2 linked regions of the Homo sapiens genome follow. The protein of the gene in region 1 interacts with the protein of each later gene in a pairwise test. Each region holds a gene or a part of one and is shown in the gene's direction. Other genes may lie near its edges.

The links. Proteins that work in one complex are often made in the same cells at the same time.
Region 2: the proteins of TNFSF12-TNFSF13 (region 1) and DICER1 interact in binary tests that used the Homo sapiens proteins (3 or more experiments, as listed by UniProt).

The regions. Positions count from the first base shown.
Region 1 is NC_000017.11:7,545,161-7,552,065, forward strand, and holds the start of TNFSF12-TNFSF13 (TNFSF12-TNFSF13 protein), read left to right. Parts: upstream 1-3,897; 5' UTR 3,898-3,993; coding exon 3,994-4,152; intron 4,153-4,313; coding exon 4,314-4,361; intron 4,362-4,959; coding exon 4,960-5,035; intron 5,036-5,638; coding exon 5,639-5,692; intron 5,693-5,782; coding exon 5,783-5,818; intron 5,819-6,905. Other genes in the region: TNFSF12 (tumor necrosis factor ligand superfamily member 12 proprotein), read left to right, coding at 3,994-4,152, 4,314-4,361, 4,960-5,035, 5,639-5,692, 5,783-5,818. UniProt on the Homo sapiens protein: Binds to FN14 and possibly also to TNRFSF12/APO3. Weak inducer of apoptosis in some cell types. Mediates NF-kappa-B activation. Promotes angiogenesis and the proliferation of endothelial cells. Also involved in induction of inflammatory cytokines.
Region 2 is NC_000014.9:95,085,698-95,091,529, reverse strand, and holds the end of DICER1 (endoribonuclease Dicer), read left to right. Parts: intron 1-164; coding exon 165-327; intron 328-420; coding exon 421-496; intron 497-866; coding exon 867-1,032; 3' UTR 1,033-5,302; downstream 5,303-5,832. UniProt on the Homo sapiens protein: Double-stranded RNA (dsRNA) endoribonuclease playing a central role in short dsRNA-mediated post-transcriptional gene silencing.

The DNA.
Region 1 (6,905 bases):
TTTCTTTTTACAAATTAAAATGCTGCATTCACCTGATAATAAAAATCAAGTAGAGGCTGGGTGCAGTGGCTCACGCCTGTAATCCCAGCACTTTGGGAAGCTGAGGCGGGTGAATCACCTGAGGTTGGGAGTTCGACACCAGCCTGACCAACATGGTGAAACCCCGTCTCTTCCAAAAATACAAAAATTAGCCTGGCATGGTGGTGGGTGCCTGTAATCCCAGCTACTCAGGAGGCTGAGACAGGAGAATCGCTTGAACCCGGGAGGCAGAGGTTGCAGTGGGCTGAGATCACACCATTGCGCTCCAGCCTGAGTGATGAGAGTGAAACTCCATCTTAAAAAAAAATAGGCCGGGCGCGGTGGCTTATGCCTGTAATCCCAGCACTTTGGGAGGCCAGGGCGGGTGGATCACGAGATCAAGAGTTTGAGACCAGCCTGGCCAACATGGTGAAACCCTGTCTCTACTAAAAATGCAAAAATTAGCCAGGCATGGTGGTGCACGCCTGTAATCCCAGCTACTTAGGAGGCTGAGGCAGGAGAATCACTTGAACCTGGGAGGGAGAGGTTGCAGTGAGCCAAGATTGTGCCACTGTACTCCAGCCTGGGTGACAGAGCGAGACTCCGTCTCAAAAAAAAAAAAAAAAAAAAAAAAAAAAGTGAAAATTGTGGGCATTTGCAGTCTTTGCTGCCATTAAGTCTTCTGGATTTTTCTACAGGTTGACTCTAAAAGTTGAAATCCAGTCAAAGATATTTACATTATTATGGCCACATGAACGTTGTTTACCCTCAGGCCAAACAATGGGCTGGAATTACACTTGCTTCTCCACACACTCCATCCCATAATCCATGTGTCACTCAAAGGACAATGTGGCAAGCAAGCACTAAGGCCCTAAATTGATACTGTATCAATTAAATACAATTATGTTGTGTTATAGCTTGTGTTTCATTTATTTTATTTTATTTTTTATTTTTATTTTTCTGAGAGATGAACTCTCACTCTGTCGCCCAGGCTGGAGTGCAGTGGCACAATCTCGCCTCACTGCGACCTCTGCCTCCCAGGTTCAAGTGATTCTCCTGCCTCAGCCTCTCGAGTAGCTGGGATTACAGGCGTGCGCCACCATGCCCGGCTAATTTTTGTATTTTTAGTAGAGACAGGGTTTCACCATGTTGGCCAGGCTGGTCTCAAACTCTTGATCTCGTGATCCACCTGCCTTGGCCTCCCAAAGTGCTGGGATTACAGGCATGAGCCACTGCGCCCGGCCTATTTATTTTATTTCAAGCAGTTCTCCTGCCTCAGCTTCCCAAGTAGCTGGAACTTCAGGCGTGCACCACCATGCCCAGCTAATTTTTGTATTTTTTAGTAGAGATGGTGTTTCACTACATGTTGGCCAGGCTGGTCTCGAACTCCTGACCTCAGGTGATCCACCCACCTTGGCCTCCCAAAGTGCTGGGATTACAGGCATGAGCCACTGTGCCCGGCCTATTTATTTTATTTTTTATAGAGACAGGGTCTCACTCTGCTGCCGAGGCTTCGGTTCAATGGGGTGATCATAGCTCACTGCAACCTCAAACTCCTGGGATCAAGTGATCCTCCTGACTTAGCCTCCACAGTAGCTGGGACTACAGGAGCATGCCATCGCACCTGGATAATTTTTCTTGTATTTTTTGTAGAGATGGAAAGGGGTTCTCACTATTTTGCCCAGGCTGGTCTTGAACTCCTGGCCTCAAGAGATCCTCTCGTCTCAACCTCTCAAAGCTCTAGGGTTACAGGCGTGAGCCATGATGCCCTGCCCGTATTTATTTATTTTTATTTTATTATTTATTTATTATCTTTTTTTTTTTTTGAGACAGGGTCTTCCTCTGCAGCCCAAGCTGGAGTTCAGTGCCCAGATCATAGCTCATGGCAACCTGGAATTCCTGGGCTCAAGCGATCCTCCTGCCTCAGTTTCCCCAGTAGCTGGGACTACAGGTGCACACCATGATGCCCAGCCTGTTTTGTTGCTTTTTTTTTTTTTTTTTTTTTTTTTTTTGAGATGGAGTCTTGCTCTGTCGCCCAGGCTGGAGTGCAGTCATGCGATCTCGGCTCATTGCAACCTCCACCTCCCGGGTTCAAGCAATTCTCTGCCTCAGCCTCCCGAGTAGCTGAGATTACAGGTGCCCGCCACCGTGCCCAGCTAATTTTTGTTTTTTTAGTAGAGACAGGGTTTCACCATCTTGGCCAGGCTAGTCTTGAACTCCTGACCTTGTGATCCACCGACCTTGGCCTCCCAAAGTGCTGGGATTACAGGCGTGAGCCACCACAACTGGCCCCAGCTGTTTCTTATTTACATTGTGATTTCAGTTTTGAAAATTTTCTGGAGATTCTAACTGCTTTTCTTTCTTTGCATACTCTTTTTTTTTTTTTTTTTTTTGACAGGGTCTTACTCTGTTGCTCGTGTTGGAATGCAGTGGTGTGATCACAGCTCACTGCAGCCTCAACCTCCCAGGCTCAGGTGATCCTCCCATCTCAACCTCCTGAGTAGCTGGGACTACAGGCATGCACCACCATGCCCAGCTCTATGGATGCTTTTTCTTGACTCTCTTTAAGTATATTAGGTAGTACTCTTTGTATCCTGAATTATCTCTGTTTCCTCCAATGTCAAATTTTGTTTGTTAATTTTGGTCTTTCTTTCTTTTTTTTTTTTTTTGAGATAGGGTCTTGCTGTGTTGCCCAGGCTGGAGTGTGGTGGCGTGATCTCAGCTCTCTGCAACCTCTGTCTCCTGGGTTCAAGCAATTCTCTGCCTCAGCTTCCCGAGTAGCTGGGAACTACAGGCGCCTGCCACCACGTCCGGCTAATTTTTTTGTATTTTTATTAGAGACAGGGTTTCACCATCTTGGCCAGGCAGGTCTCGATCTCCTGACCTCGTGATCCACCCGCCTCAGCCTCCCAAAGTGCTGCGATTACAGGCGTGAACCATCGCGCCCAGCCAATTTTGGTCCTTCCTTCCTTCCTTCCTTCCTTCCTTCCTTCCTTCCTTCCTTCCCTCCTTCCCTCCCTCCCTCCCTCCCTCCTTTCTTTCTTTCTTCCTTTCTTTCTTTCTTTTTGAGACAAGGTCTGTTGCCCAGGCTGGAGTGTAGTGGTGCAATCACAGCTCACTGCAGCCTCAAACTCCTGGGCTCAAACAATCCTCCTACCTCGGCCTCCTGAGTAGCTGGGACTACAGGCGTGGGCTAATTTTTTAAAACTTTTCTGTAGAGATGGGGTCTTGCTCTTGCCCAGGCTGATCTTGAACTCCTGGCCCCCAGCCTTGGCCTTCTGGGATTACAGGCGTAAGCCACCTGCCGGACCAATTTTGGTGTTTCTTTTGCATGCTGCTGGTCCTCCTCAGATGCTTGGCAATCATTGGTAATGATGGGCTTCAGAACGTGCTACCGGCACAGTGAGTGTTTTAAGCTGAAGGAATTTGAGAAAACCGCAGAAGCCGAAGGATCTTTCTTACCTTCTCCTGCCCTTCTTCCCTGAACCAGGTCATACAACCTGGAACTCCCTGCCCTTTTCCTGAAGAAGCAAATAACAGCCTCCTGCGAGAGGCGCCCTCCCTGCACCTGGGGGAAAGGAGGGTCCTTATCTCTGAAGACACAGGGACACAGAAGAATCTGAACCAACAGGCCTTCCTGAGTTCCCCACCTCCCCGCAGGAGGTGCCCGCACACGCATAGCCCCGTCGCTCCCGCGGCCGCACGCAACGGACCTCGCCCTGGTGGTGCACGCCCGGGCTGGGCGCTCAGAGGTCGGGTGGGCGCCCACTCCGTTCGCTGCGCGCACAGCGCCCGGCGAGAGGCTCGGAGTTTGATCACACACAGCGTCCGGCTTCCTGTCCCCAGCGCCCCCTCCCGCCCCGTTTCCCTTGCCCCTCCCTCTCCCCGGCCCGATCCGCCCGCCGGCTCCCCCTCCCCCGATCCCTCGGGTCCCGGGATGGGGGGGCGGTGAGGCAGGCACAGCCCCCCGCCCCCATGGCCGCCCGTCGGAGCCAGAGGCGGAGGGGGCGCCGGGGGGAGCCGGGCACCGCCCTGCTGGTCCCGCTCGCGCTGGGCCTGGGCCTGGCGCTGGCCTGCCTCGGCCTCCTGCTGGCCGTGGTCAGTTTGGGGAGCCGGGCATCGCTGTCCGCCCAGGTGAGGCCCCGCTGCGCACCCCTTCTTGGGCACATCAGGAGCTGAGACTGCAGAGGGGCCGCTGGGGGCCGCGTGGGCTGAAGGCAAGGGGAAGGGAGGATGGGTGGAGGGTGAGATGTCAGGTGGAGCGGCACAGGGTGACGCTCCCTCCTTCCCAGCAGGAGCCTGCCCAGGAGGAGCTGGTGGCAGAGGAGGACCAGGACCCGTCGGTGAGTGGGCGTGGGCGCGGTCTGCAGGCTGCTGGGGCATGGGAAGTGTGCACAGCCGAGGCTGCAGGTGTGTGCAGCTGTGCCAGCCGTACTCGAGGTGTGTGCAGGGTGTGTGTGAACACAGTGCGTGCATGGGTGCGTGTCTGCAGGGGTGTGTGTGCGTGGTGACAACTCTGTGTGAGGGGTTTGTGCTGGGGTTGTGCCACCTGAGTCTGAGGTGTTTATTGGCTGGGGGTGACGTGGTTGTATAAGATATGTGAGTCTGCGTGGAAGAGGGGTGCGGTTGTGTACAGGGTGTGTATCCTCTGTGCGTGGTGACTGGGTGCGGGCATGTGTGCAATGTGCCAATTGAATGCAGGGTCTGCGTTGGTTGTGTGTGTGGGTGGGAAAGTGTAGCTGGTCTAGAGGAAAGGGTGAGGACTGGGGCCTGACTCCCAGCTTCACCTTTGCCCGGGGCCCCAGCTGTAGTTGGCTGAGGGGCTTAATCTGTCCCTGACTTCTGTGTCTATTGCTGGCTGGTGGCTCTCCTGACAGGCCCCGTATGTCTCACTTTATATCTCTGGGAGTCTGTGGTTGAACCCTGCCCTAATTCCCCTAGGAACTGAATCCCCAGACAGAAGAAAGCCAGGATCCTGCGCCTTTCCTGAACCGACTAGTTCGGCCTCGCAGAAGTGGTGAGCATCCCTCTATCCCAACCTCAGGAAGCGGGCAGAGCAAAAACCATTATCCACAGGGAGAAACTGAGGCACGGAGGGTGAAAGGAGTTCAGAGTCATGCAGCTAACCAGCCAAGACTCAAACCTAGGGATTCTCGCCCTCCTCTGAAGCTCCTTCTGTCATATGGATGTGCTCCTTCAGACCCTACCCCAAACAGGAAGGCAGGGTGGCCATGAGTTAGAAGAACTACTGGGATCCTGATGGAGACTAGGCCTGGCAGTCAGAGGCCTGGGCCCCGGTAGGCAAAGAGACTTAGGAATGGGATGATGGGGTGGCCGGATGACCACGTGTCCAAGTCGGCATGCAGTTGTCCTGGCCCCCACCTGTTATCTCGGTGTGATTAATAGCAGCTTCCCGTTTTGCTCTCAGCAGTATCCCAGTGTGGATGACAAATTATAGTCACTCTACTTACTGAGGAAGATGAGGCCTGAGATTCTAAGGCCAGGAGTCTGGACAAGAATAAGGATGCCAGGGTTCCTGAGAGGGGAATGGGGCTGGGAGAGTTGCTCTGGGACCCCCACTAGGGCCCGCTTTGCTCATCTGTCTTTCCTTGATCCTCAGCACCTAAAGGCCGGAAAACACGGGCTCGAAGAGCGATCGCAGCCCATTATGAAGGTGGGTGATGGGTGAGCCATACCCAGGAGGAGAGGGGCAGGTGGCAGAGGGTCAGGGCAGGTCTCACCAGCCTTTTCCTGTACTTTACAGTTCATCCACGACCTGGACAGGACGGAGCGCAGGCAGGTGAGACCCCATCCCCCGACACAGCACTGGCCTCCTGGGAAAAGGGCCCTTGAAAACCTTTGACCTCCCACTCCCTTCCCGGCCATCAGTCTCAGAACCACAGAAGCCAGTTCATGAAGGTCTTGGTTCTCTCTGTGACCCAGGCGTGGGACCCCATGAAAGACCCCTACTCTTCCCCAGAACTCTGCCCAGTTCCCCCAGCAAATCACTGTCCCAGCTCTCTCCTTCAGCCCTCATTCTTCTCCAAGAAGCACTTTTCATTCTTTTTTCTTCTGTCTCCTCCATATTCCACGTTCTGATGATCTTTTTCTCTAAATGCTGCTAGTGTCTGCTCATCTTTTCCATTTCTACCCCACCCTCTACCTCAGCACCGTGACCTCAGAACCTCAAATCCAGCCTCTTGCTGCTTCCCCACTCCACACCCTCCCTACCCCTCCACTCCATCTGACCTGTGCTGCCATGCTGAGCCCCTAAACTTCACTTTTCTTGTGGTATTGGCTCTCTACATGGCTTCCAGTCTCTTCGTGGTCTGGTCTCAACCTAATTTCCCTGCACTCTTATGCTGTCTTCATGTTTGCTGCGCTGACACCCCTGCTCCCGGTGTGCCTCTTCTGGACTTTGCACATACCATCCCCCTCACCAGAATGTCTTTCCACTGTGAGAGGCAGGGAGGCATGAGGAGTGCTCAGCCGAGGGGTTCACAGCAGAGATGGTGAGAAGTGGATGGGTTCAGCCTGTGTCCTGAAGATATTACTGACTTATGGGTTGGAGGTGAAGAATAAAAGAAAGGGAGGAATCACAGATGACTTCTAGATTTTTTATTTTTTTTAAGACAGTCTCGCTCTGTCACCCAGGCTGGAGTGCAGTGGTGCAATCTCGGCTTACTGCAACCTCTGCCTCCCAGGTTCAAGAGATTCCCGTCTCAGCCTTCCAAGTAGCTGGGATTACAGGCGTGTGCCACCACGCCTGGCTAATTTTTGTATTTTTAGTAGAGATGGGGTTTTGCCATGTTTTCCAGGCTGGTCTCAAACTCTTGACCTCCAGTGATCTGCCCGCCTCGGCCTACCAAAGTGCTGGGATTACAGGC
Region 2 (5,832 bases), on another chromosome or scaffold:
AACATTTGTTTTACTATTACAATATAGTAGGCATACCATAAATGGTATTTCCCCCCTTACTAAAGAAGTAACAAAAGTCATATATCCAAGAAAAGAAACTACATCTGTGGACTGCCTGTAAAAGTGGCCTTTTTGCTTACAAGTCACTTTTCCCTCTGTAATAGCTTAGGAGATCTGAGGAGGATGAAGAGAAAGAAGAGGATATTGAAGTTCCAAAGGCCATGGGGGATATTTTTGAGTCGCTTGCTGGTGCCATTTACATGGATAGTGGGATGTCACTGGAGACAGTCTGGCAGGTGTACTATCCCATGATGCGGCCACTAATAGGTATTGTTGGCTCCCTTTAGAAAGAAAAAAACCCACAAAATTAAAAACAACTTCAGAGATATTATTCATATTATTCTTTCATTTTGATTGCAGAAAAGTTTTCTGCAAATGTACCCCGTTCCCCTGTGCGAGAATTGCTTGAAATGGAACCAGAAACTGCCAAATTTAGGTAAGCAAAAAATGTACATGGAAAAAACATTAACTTAAAAACATCAAAGGGGAAAAGTTCACAAAGATATTGTAAACTAATGATTCTGAAAAATATTTACACTGTGGTGTGCTGTTGTCAGATTTCTGTTTGTAATCTGATTGACTTCTCTTTTTTCCTTCTGTTTTTATGAAATAATGCTGTAATAAAGACTAGACGGCAGCCCTGTCTGTCGGGGGTATGCAATTGCAGTAAGTCGTAACGCGTGTTTCCTTTGTGTGGTGTCAGCTTATACATGGGACTCCTGGCCTGAGAGTGCACACTAAATGCTGATTGACAATGATAATAAATACTTCTGACTTCTAATTCAAGCTGTTTGGATTTTTTACAGCCCGGCTGAGAGAACTTACGACGGGAAGGTCAGAGTCACTGTGGAAGTAGTAGGAAAGGGGAAATTTAAAGGTGTTGGTCGAAGTTACAGGATTGCCAAATCTGCAGCAGCAAGAAGAGCCCTCCGAAGCCTCAAAGCTAATCAACCTCAGGTTCCCAATAGCTGAAACCGCTTTTTAAAATTCAAAACAAGAAACAAAACAAAAAAAATTAAGGGGAAAATTATTTAAATCGGAAAGGAAGACTTAAAGTTGTTAGTGAGTGGAATGAATTGAAGGCAGAATTTAAAGTTTGGTTGATAACAGGATAGATAACAGAATAAAACATTTAACATATGTATAAAATTTTGGAACTAATTGTAGTTTTAGTTTTTTGCGCAAACACAATCTTATCTTCTTTCCTCACTTCTGCTTTGTTTAAATCACAAGAGTGCTTTAATGATGACATTTAGCAAGTGCTCAAAATAATTGACAGGTTTTGTTTTTTTTTTTTTGAGTTTATGTCAGCTTTGCTTAGTGTTAGAAGGCCATGGAGCTTAAACCTCCAGCAGTCCCTAGGATGATGTAGATTCTTCTCCATCTCTCCGTGTGTGCAGTAGTGCCAGTCCTGCAGTAGTTGATAAGCTGAATAGAAAGATAAGGTTTTCGAGAGGAGAAGTGCGCCAATGTTGTCTTTTCTTTCCACGTTATACTGTGTAAGGTGATGTTCCCGGTCGCTGTTGCACCTGATAGTAAGGGACAGATTTTTAATGAACATTGGCTGGCATGTTGGTGAATCACATTTTAGTTTTCTGATGCCACATAGTCTTGCATAAAAAAGGGTTCTTGCCTTAAAAGTGAAACCTTCATGGATAGTCTTTAATCTCTGATCTTTTTGGAACAAACTGTTTTACATTCCTTTCATTTTATTATGCATTAGACGTTGAGACAGCGTGATACTTACAACTCACTAGTATAGTTGTAACTTATTACAGGATCATACTAAAATTTCTGTCATATGTATACTGAAGACATTTTAAAAACCAGAATATGTAGTCTACGGATATTTTTTATCATAAAAATGATCTTTGGCTAAACACCCCATTTTACTAAAGTCCTCCTGCCAGGTAGTTCCCACTGATGGAAATGTTTATGGCAAATAATTTTGCCTTCTAGGCTGTTGCTCTAACAAAATAAACCTTAGACATATCACACCTAAAATATGCTGCAGATTTTATAATTGATTGGTTACTTATTTAAGAAGCAAAACACAGCACCTTTACCCTTAGTCTCCTCACATAAATTTCTTACTATACTTTTCATAATGTTGCATGCATATTTCACCTACCAAAGCTGTGCTGTTAATGCCGTGAAAGTTTAACGTTTGCGATAAACTGCCGTAATTTTGATACATCTGTGATTTAGGTCATTAATTTAGATAAACTAGCTCATTATTTCCATCTTTGGAAAAGGAAAAAAAAAAAAACTTCTTTAGGCATTTGCCTAAGTTTCTTTAATTAGACTTGTAGGCACTCTTCACTTAAATACCTCAGTTCTTCTTTTCTTTTGCATGCATTTTTCCCCTGTTTGGTGCTATGTTTATGTATTATGCTTGAAATTTTAATTTTTTTTTTTTTGCACTGTAACTATAATACCTCTTAATTTACCTTTTTAAAAGCTGTGGGTCAGTCTTGCACTCCCATCAACATACCAGTAGAGGTTTGCTGCAATTTGCCCCGTTAATTATGCTTGAAGTTTAAGAAAGCTGAGCAGAGGTGTCTCATATTTCCCAGCACATGATTCTGAACTTGATGCTTCGTGGAATGCTGCATTTATATGTAAGTGACATTTGAATACTGTCCTTCCTGCTTTATCTGCATCATCCACCCACAGAGAAATGCCTCTGTGCGAGTGCACCGACAGAAAACTGTCAGCTCTGCTTTCTAAGGAACCCTGAGTGAGGGGGGTATTAAGCTTCTCCAGTGTTTTTTGTTGTCTCCAATCTTAAACTTAAATTGAGATCTAAATTATTAAACGAGTTTTTGAGCAAATTAGGTGACTTGTTTTAAAAATATTTAATTCCGATTTGGAACCTTAGATGTCTATTTGATTTTTTAAAAAACCTTAATGTAAGATATGACCAGTTAAAACAAAGCAATTCTTGAATTATATAACTGTAAAAGTGTGCAGTTAACAAGGCTGGATGTGAATTTTATTCTGAGGGTGATTTGTGATCAAGTTTAATCACAAATCTCTTAATATTTATAAACTACCTGATGCCAGGAGCTTAGGGCTTTGCATTGTGTCTAATACATTGATCCCAGTGTTACGGGATTCTCTTGATTCCTGGCACCAAAATCAGATTGTTTTCACAGTTATGATTCCCAGTGGGAGAAAAATGCCTCAATATATTTGTAACCTTAAGAAGAGTATTTTTTTGTTAATACTAAGATGTTCAAACTTAGACATGATTAGGTCATACATTCTCAGGGGTTCAAATTTCCTTCTACCATTCAAATGTTTTATCAACAGCAAACTTCAGCCGTTTCACTTTTTGTTGGAGAAAAATAGTAGATTTTAATTTGACTCACAGTTTGAAGCATTCTGTGATCCCCTGGTTACTGAGTTAAAAAATAAAAAAGTACGAGTTAGACATATGAAATGGTTATGAACGCTTTTGTGCTGCTGATTTTTAATGCTGTAAAGTTTTCCTGTGTTTAGCTTGTTGAAATGTTTTGCATCTGTCAATTAAGGAAAAAAAAAATCACTCTATGTTGCCCCACTTTAGAGCCCTGTGTGCCACCCTGTGTTCCTGTGATTGCAATGTGAGACCGAATGTAATATGGAAAACCTACCAGTGGGGTGTGGTTGTGCCCTGAGCACGTGTGTAAAGGACTGGGGAGGCGTGTCTTGAAAAAGCAACTGCAGAAATTCCTTATGATGATTGTGTGCAAGTTAGTTAACATGAACCTTCATTTGTAAATTTTTTAAAATTTCTTTTATAATATGCTTTCCGCAGTCCTAACTATGCTGCGTTTTATAATAGCTTTTTCCCTTCTGTTCTGTTCATGTAGCACAGATAAGCATTGCACTTGGTACCATGCTTTACCTCATTTCAAGAAAATATGCTTAACAGAGAGGAAAAAAATGTGGTTTGGCCTTGCTGCTGTTTTGATTTATGGAATTTGAAAAAGATAATTATAATGCCTGCAATGTGTCATATACTCGCACAACTTAAATAGGTCATTTTTGTCTGTGGCATTTTTACTGTTTGTGAAAGTATGAAACAGATTTGTTAACTGAACTCTTAATTATGTTTTTAAAATGTTTGTTATATTTCTTTTCTTTTTTCTTTTATATTACGTGAAGTGATGAAATTTAGAATGACCTCTAACACTCCTGTAATTGTCTTTTAAAATACTGATATTTTTATTTGTTAATAATACTTTGCCCTCAGAAAGATTCTGATACCCTGCCTTGACAACATGAAACTTGAGGCTGCTTTGGTTCATGAATCCAGGTGTTCCCCCGGCAGTCGGCTTCTTCAGTCGCTCCCTGGAGGCAGGTGGGCACTGCAGAGGATCACTGGAATCCAGATCGAGCGCAGTTCATGCACAAGGCCCCGTTGATTTAAAATATTGGATCTTGCTCTGTTAGGGTGTCTAATCCCTTTACACAAGATTGAAGCCACCAAACTGAGACCTTGATACCTTTTTTTAACTGCATCTGAAATTATGTTAAGAGTCTTTAACCCATTTGCATTATCTGCAGAAGAGAAACTCATGTCATGTTTATTACCTATATGGTTGTTTTAATTACATTTGAATAATTATATTTTTCCAACCACTGATTACTTTTCAGGAATTTAATTATTTCCAGATAAATTTCTTTATTTTATATTGTACATGAAAAGTTTTAAAGATATGTTTAAGACCAAGACTATTAAAATGATTTTTAAAGTTGTTGGAGACGCCAATAGCAATATCTAGGAAATTTGCATTGAGACCATTGTATTTTCCACTAGCAGTGAAAATGATTTTTCACAACTAACTTGTAAATATATTTTAATCATTACTTCTTTTTTTCTAGTCCATTTTTATTTGGACATCAACCACAGACAATTTAAATTTTATAGATGCACTAAGAATTCACTGCAGCAGCAGGTTACATAGCAAAAATGCAAAGGTGAACAGGAAGTAAATTTCTGGCTTTTCTGCTGTAAATAGTGAAGGAAAATTACTAAAATCAAGTAAAACTAATGCATATTATTTGATTGACAATAAAATATTTACCATCACATGCTGCAGCTGTTTTTTAAGGAACATGATGTCATTCATTCATACAGTAATCATGCTGCAGAAATTTGCAGTCTGCACCTTATGGATCACAATTACCTTTAGTTGTTTTTTTTGTAATAATTGTAGCCAAGTAAATCTCCAATAAAGTTATCGTCTGTTCACTTTGTGTCCTTTCATCTTTTTTCAATTCAAGTGGGTAATAACGTTTAAATAGTGGTAGCAGAAATGATCTTTATAATGTTTCAATTCCATGGTGAATCATATGAAAATGCATATTTTAATATAAAATTTTGTTTACCAAGTTCTGCTTCATGTCCACCTGTAGAATTATATAGTAACAACTGTCTTTTTTGAAGACTTAATTCCAATCTGCTTTTTGGAAATTCTGTCACATTGATTGATGCATTCTAGGTCTTGGATTATTTAGATGATGTGTTTGACACATTCTTGAGGTGAACTTGGCTTTTCTAAAAGCAGGTGGACAGAATGTTCAGCTTCCAGGTTTTTAGGACACATTTCCAATATTGTTGATTAAGAAATAATTCTATCATTTTAGCCTTTTGACCCAACTTTTTTTGTAACTCAGTAAACCAAGCACTAATATGAATCATTTGGTTGTAGAAACAAGATGGTAAGAAGTTTTTTAGAATGAGAAAAAAGTTTAGTTTTCCTTTGTAGGTTTAAATTAGTC